Linked DNA regions of Homo sapiens. The protein of the gene in region 2 purifies or fractionates together with the protein of the main gene of each other region. This does not show direct contact. Each region holds a gene or a part of one and is shown on either strand. Other genes may lie near its edges.

Region 1 (3,500 bases), on a different chromosome or scaffold from region 2:
TAGCAAGACAGAAGTCATAGCCATTAATAATCTAATTGTGGCAGTAACATTCCATCACTTGGGCTATGCTCTGTTTGTTAGAAACGAGTCACTAGGCTGTGTGCATTGGCTCATGCCTGTAATCCCAGCTATTTGGGAGGCTAAGGCTGGAGGATCACTTGAGGCCAGGAGTTCAAGACCAGCCTAGGCAAGATAGCAAGGCTGTCTCTTTCAAAAGAACAAAAAAAGAAAAAAAAATCATTCATAGATCGATAGATAGATAGGTAACTAACTGACTAGTCACTAGGTCCAGCCCACTTGAGGGAGGAATTGCAGAAATGTCTGACTCCTTAGAGGCAAGGGTCATTGAGGGGCATTTTTGAAAGCCGCCTACCACAGTAAGGAAGTCAATATGAAGGGCTTTGTTGTTTTTTATTTAATTTTATGCTGTATTAGAGGTACTGTATGAGGCTCTTCTCACATTGCTATAAAGAAATACCTGAGACTGGGTAATTTATAAAGAAAAGAGGTTTAATTGGCTCATGGTTCTGCAGGCTGTACAGGAAGCATGGCACCAGCATCTGCTCAGCTTCTAAGGAGGCGTCAGGAAGCTTTTACTCATGGTGGAAGGCAAAGGGGGAGCCAGTATCTCACATGGCAGAGCAGGAGCAAGAGAGAGCAAGAGTGGCAGTGGGGTGCCGTAACCCCAAGCCATGAGGGATCTGCCCCCATGGCCCAAACATCTCCCACCAGGCCCCGCCTCCAACATTGGGAATTACATCTCAACATGAGATTTGCGGGGAACATCCAAACTATATCAGGTACCAAATTTGCAGGCTGAAGAATTGCCACTTGGGTGTATTTTTATGACTGCATTTTCTCACCCATTGAGTCTCCTGTACCTTAGTCTTTGGGCTTACGGACATGCTGACACAGCGCCTGCTGTTCCACGAAGGAGACCCACGGGTGGTAATGGTCAGTTAAAACACGGGGATGGACCATGAGAGAGGGGGTACCTTTGACAGTGGTGCTTTTCAAAGGGCATGAAGGATTAGGCACACTAGAGAGAGGAGCAGCGAGGGGCCAGATGAGGAGCCTGAGGAGGACCAGTGAGAGGACCGGGAACTTCACAGAAGTGCCACTAAAGGTGTGTGAGCAGGAGGCTGTGGACTGAAAACCACGTCACAGTGAGACGAGCTTGGCATGTTGTCTGAATGGTTTGGCGGCGGGGACTAAAGCAGGGGAGAATAGGTAGGTATATCTTGTAATAGTAAGTAGTTAATGAACTAGATATTGAGATATTCCAGACAAAGGAAGTAGCCCTATAGATGCACAGAATCAGACTAAACAGCTGGGTGTGCATTCAGATTGTATATCTGGATTCCTGTTTGGCAAAAATCTTCAGATTATTTGAGGGATAGAAATAAAATGCTCCATCTGTGACAGGTGCATTGGTGTATGTTGTTTTATCTTTTTCGATAGCACTTCTACCTTAATAGAGTAGCCGTTGGCTCTGTAAACCAGCTGCAGCTACTACACCCCGTTTCTACTGGAGCAGGAGTAGAGGTTTCCTAGCTAGAGAAGAACGTGGACAATAGCTAGTCCTACCCCATTATCGATTACCAGAGAGAAATGACAGGCCTCCCCCACCCTCTTTCCCCATTCCTGCTCTCTCTAATAGTAATGAGTCACTAATCGGGGAAAGGATTGATTAAAAAACTCAATGTTCTTACTGCTTGGGCATCTTCTCTCACAGGATTTTGTGGATGGATGAATGTATGTGCTTATTATGTTAAAACGTGGGATTGGCTGTATCTTCTGGCTGGCTTTATAGTTGTGCCATGTTGGTTCCTCATGGCCAACCTGTATAAAAGAATAGGAAAGATGGGCCAGGCGTGGTCGTTCACGCCTGTAATCCCAGCACTTTGGGCAGCCAAGGTGGGTGAATCACTTGAGGTCAGGAGTTAGCAAGACCAGCCCGGCCAATATGGTGAAACCCTATCTCTGCTAAAAATACAAAAAAACAGCTGAGCATGGTGGTGCAAGCCTGTAAACCCAGCTACTTGGGAGGCTGAGGCAGGAGAATCCCTTGAACCCAGGAGGCAAAGGTTGCAGTGAGCCAAGGTGGCACCACTGCACTCCAGCCTGGGCGACAGAGCAAGACTCCATCTCAAAAAAAAAAAAAAAAAAAAAAGAATAGGAAAGATGTTGCTAGTGTGGTATTTCATACAAAGTCTAAAGATCAACACATTTTACCCTTTCAAATGAGTGTAAGCAGTCATAAAGATTTGTCAGATTGTCTTTGTTTTTAATAAATCTGAAACAGCATTGAGGTCAGGGATGAAGAAAGCCAAAGAAATGGGTTTTCAACTGTCTTGTTCCATGTAAATGTCATCAAAATAATCACACTCACTCACAGATTTGGTGGTAATCTTTGTTCAAAGGTGTCACTACTTTTTTTTTTATAGTGAAGAATGAAAATCTTGAAAATTTGGAGGAAAAAGAATATTTTGGAATTGTCAGTGTAAGGATTTTAGTTCATGAGTGGCCTATGACATCTGGTTCCAGTTTGCAACTAATTGTCATTCAAGAAGAGGTAGTAGAGATTGATGGAAAACAAGTAAGATAGTATGTTTATTAATTGGGAATTAAATGATATTTAGATTTGTGCTAGATATTATGCATGTGTTCAGTTATTTTATTTGTTTCCGACTTGATAAGGAAGGTGCCTAATGTTGCCTATATCCAATTATTTAGAATTTTTGTATATTTATTTTAGCATTTGAAATGTATTTTTAAAATTTCCCATATTCATACATGTTTGTATCACTTTAAAATGTACAGACATTATTAAATAGAAAGTAAGCAAAGAGATTCAATTTGGCTCATAGTTCTGCTACCATTTCCTCTATGGTAAATGAAGTCTCTGTGTGTAAATGAAGTAGAATCGAGATTAAGCTTATAATAGTAAGTGTTAAAGCAGGACAGGAATATTATTAAAGTTGCAAGTTAAGTGCCCCAAAGTGGGAGTACGGGGAAATAAATAGTAATTGTTAGCTGGGCATGGTGGCTCACACCTGTAATCCCAGCACTTTGGGAGGCCAAGGTGGACGAATCACCTGAGGTCAGGAGTTCTAGACCAGCCTGACCAACATGGAGAAACTCCTTGTCTCTACTAAAAATACAAAGTTAGCTGGGCATGGTGGCGCATGCCTGTAATCCTAGCTACTCGGGAGGCTGAGGCAGGAGAATCGCTTGAACCCAGAAGGCGGAGGTTGCGGCAAGCTGAGATCGCACCATTGCACTCCAGCCTGGGCAACAACAAGAGCGAAACTCCATCTCAAAAAAAAAAAAAAAGAGTAATTGTCTGAATAGGACACATGTTTTAGTTATATAAATCTGGGAGGAAAATTTGCTTTTAAATTTTTATGGGGCTGTGCTACTATTTAAAATAAAGAATAATTATATTTTCTTTCACAGGTTCAGCAAAAGGATGTCACTGAAATTGATATTTTAGTTAA
Region 2 (3,500 bases):
CTCATGCACAGATGCTTCCCAATGGATCATTCATTTATTGGTCCACTGGTGCATTCATTTTCTGCCCTCCCATTTAATCCTTTGCAATATCAGTGTCCAAGAGCAGAGGCCAAATGCACCTTGTTTACCATTTGTGGAAAGGATAAGAATGCCGCCCCACCCCAAAATATTCCTGTCCTAGTCGCCATATCTTGTGAATATGTTATTTTACATGGAAAAAAGGAATGCAGATTGCAGATGGAATTACGGTTGCTAATCAGCTAACCTTAAAAGGAGGGTATCCTAGATGATTTTAGGGAAATTATGATGGATTATCTTGGTGTTTCCAATAGAATGCCAAAGTCCTTAAAAGATGAGGAAGAAGGCAGAGCAGCATTCAGAGAAAGAGGTGTGGACAAGGAAGAAGGGTCTGAGTGATGCCGTGTGAGAGGCGTGACCAGCCTTTGTGGACTTTGAGGGAGGAAGACGGGGACCAGGAGCCAAGGAATGTGGGAGCCTCTAGGAGCTGGGAAAAGTGAGGAAGCAGATTCTTGCCTGGAACATTCAGAGGGAAGGCAGCCTTGCTGTCACCTTGATTTTAGCCCAGTGAGATGATGCATTTCATACTTCTGAGCTACAGCACCATGAGATATTTTTTAAAAATGTGGTTTCCATCCACGAAGCTTGTGGAAATTTGTTATGGCAACATAGGAAAAGGTTCCACACTGCACAGTCTGAGCATGGGGCAGTGGCTGAACGAGTAAGTGGAAGTGTCATGTGCACGGATGAACTACGTTCTCTCTTACCGCAAAGCTCTTGTTCCACTAAGTCAACCAGGGTTGGATCATGACAGACAGGAGCTCATTCCTTGGCAAGTAGAACTTCTCTACAAATACACCACCCTCAAAAATGTTCCCCTTCCTTCCCCTTCTCAAGCCCCCAGGCATTTGTCCTCCCAGTTAGGAATGCAGGCAGAACAAACACAGCATTTTTCCTGAGAAGAATGTCTGATTTGCACTCATCCTTCTACCCTGAGGTCTCAGCAGCAGAAAATTAGAGATTAAGAGATTTCACTGAGCCCTGTGCTGGGCCCAGATCCCTTTCGCTGTTGGAGTGTCTGGGGTTCAGAGACAATGGAAGACAGGCCCACAATCACAGAGCTGGCAGGTGCTGAGCCAACGCTTGAATCCAAGGCTTCTACCTCCCCAGGTTTCCAAAAGCAGAGATAAGAGGGGTCCTTCACTTACCAGTTTTGAAGCTTGGTTCAGTGGGTGAAGGCCAACTACTAGAAGGGTTTCCTAGAACACGGGACAGGAGAGAGGTGTGGCAATGAGGATGCCTGTCTTCTACTCAATGGAAATCTTTGAGGTTGGTTCATGGCCAACATTCTATTATCTAATGTTGGGCCCTGGGAGTCCTGGCATCCCATTCTCCATAATCATTGTAGGTGACACCAACTATCTTGAGACTTCAAGGTATAAGGAGAAAACAGGAGCATCACACTACCTGACTTAAAAATATGTTACAGAGCTGTAGTAAGCAAAACAACATGACATTGGCATAAAGAAAAGCACATAAAACAATGGAGCAGAATGAAGAACACGGATGTAATCCACCCATTTACATCCAATGGACTTTGACAAAGGTTCGAAGAATCTACAATCTGGAAAGGACAGTCATTTCAATAAATGGTGCAGGGAAAACTGGATATCTACATGCAGAGGGATGAAACTGCACCTCTACCTCTCACCATACACAAAAATCAGATGAAAATGGATTAATGACTTAAGACCTGAATCCATTAAATGTCTAAAAGGAAACACTGGAGAAATGCTCCAGGACATTTGTCTGAGGGAAGACATTTTGTTTAAAACCTCAAAAACACAAGTAATCACAACAACAACAAAAAAATAGACCATTGGGATTATATCAAATCAAGCAGCTTCTGCACCGCAAAGGAAGCAACCAATGAAGTGAAGAAGAGACAACCCACAGAATGGGAGCAAATATTTGCAAACTATGCATCTGAGATGGGATTAATAACTAGAATATAAAAGAAGCTCAAACACCTCAATAAAACTAATAATTTAATTATAAAATTAGTAAAAGACCTGAACAGACATTTCTCAATGAACAAAACATACAAATGAACATATATACATTGCATATATGAAAAAGTGCTCAGTATCACTAATCATCAGAGAAATGCAAATGAAGTCACAATGAGCTATCATCTCACCCCATTACAATGGGTTTTATCTCAGAGACAGACAAAACAAATGTTGGCAAGGTGGTGGAGAAAGGAGAACCCTAATACACTGTTGATAGGAATGTAAATTAATACAGCCATTACAGAGGAGAAGAATATGGAAGTTCCTTAAAAACTAAAAAGAGATTAGGCACTGTGTCTCACGCTTGTAATCCCAGCACCTTGGGAGGCTGAAGTGGGCAGATCACTGGAGGTCAAGAGTTCGAGACCAGCCTGGCTAACATGGTGAAACCCCGTCTCTACTAAAAATACAAAAATCAGCCAGGCGTGGTGGCGGGCACCAGTAATCCCAACTACTCGGGAGGCTGAGGCTGGAGAATCACTTGAATCCTGGAGGTAGAGGTTGCAGTGAGCCCAGGTGGTGCCATTGCACTCCAGCTTGGGCAACAAGAGTGAAACGCTATGTCAAAAAAACAAAAAGCATAAAACAAAACCTAAAAAGAGAACATCCAGAGGATCTAGCAATTCCACTAGTGGGTGTAAATGCAAAGAAAAGGACTTCAGTGTATTGAAGTGACATCTGCACTCCCATGACTGTTCCAGCACTGTTCACAGTAGCCAAGATGTGGAGTCAACCTACCTGCCCATCAGTGGATGAATGGATAGAGAGAAAGTAGTACATACACACAATGGAGACAACTCATCCATACAAAGAGTAACGTCCTGTCATTTGCAGCCACATGGATGGACTGGAGGTCATTACAAGGATTGCCATTTCTTACTCACATGCAGGATGTAAAAGGTGGACCTCATGAAGGTAGAGAGTAGAATGGTGGATACCAGAGGTTAGGAAGGAAGGGGTGGAGGGTAACAAAAGAAGAATATAAAAGTATTTATTTATTTATTTAGAGACAGAGTCTCTCTGTGTCACCAGGCTGCAGTGCAGTGGCATGATCTCAGCTCACTGCAACCTCCTCCTCCTGGGTTTAAGCCACTCTCCCGCCTCAGCCTCCCAAGTTGCTGGGATTATAGGCGCCTGGCACCATGCCTGGCTAATTTTATTTTTTTTGTCTTTTTAGTAAAGATTGGTTCCCCCATGTTGGCCAGGCTGGTCTCCAGCCCCTGATTTTAAATGATCCACCTGCCTTGGCGTCTCAAAATGCTGAGATTACAGGCATGAGCCACCGCACACAGCATATAAAGGTATTTATGATCCCTAGATTTTACACTTAAAAATGGTAAAGTTGATAAATTATATAGGTATATTTAACCTCAATCAGCATTTTTTCAAAGGAAAAGAAAAAGTGTAGGG

The links.
Region 1: the proteins of KIR2DL4 (region 2) and GINM1 purify together in Homo sapiens (affinity purification with mass spectrometry; one large-scale study listed by BioGRID and IntAct). This does not show direct contact.

The regions. Positions count from the first base shown.
Region 1 is NC_000006.12:149,576,375-149,579,874, forward strand, and holds part of GINM1 (glycoprotein integral membrane protein 1 precursor), read left to right. Parts: intron 1-2,447; coding exon 2,448-2,599; intron 2,600-3,459; coding exon 3,460-3,500.
Region 2 is NC_000019.10:54,806,610-54,810,109, reverse strand, and holds part of KIR2DL4 (killer cell immunoglobulin-like receptor 2DL4 isoform c precursor), read right to left. Parts: intron 1,278-3,500; coding exon 1,227-1,277; intron 1-1,226. UniProt on the Homo sapiens protein: Receptor for non-classical major histocompatibility class Ib HLA-G molecules. Recognizes HLA-G in complex with B2M/beta-2 microglobulin and a nonamer self-peptide (peptide-bound HLA-G-B2M).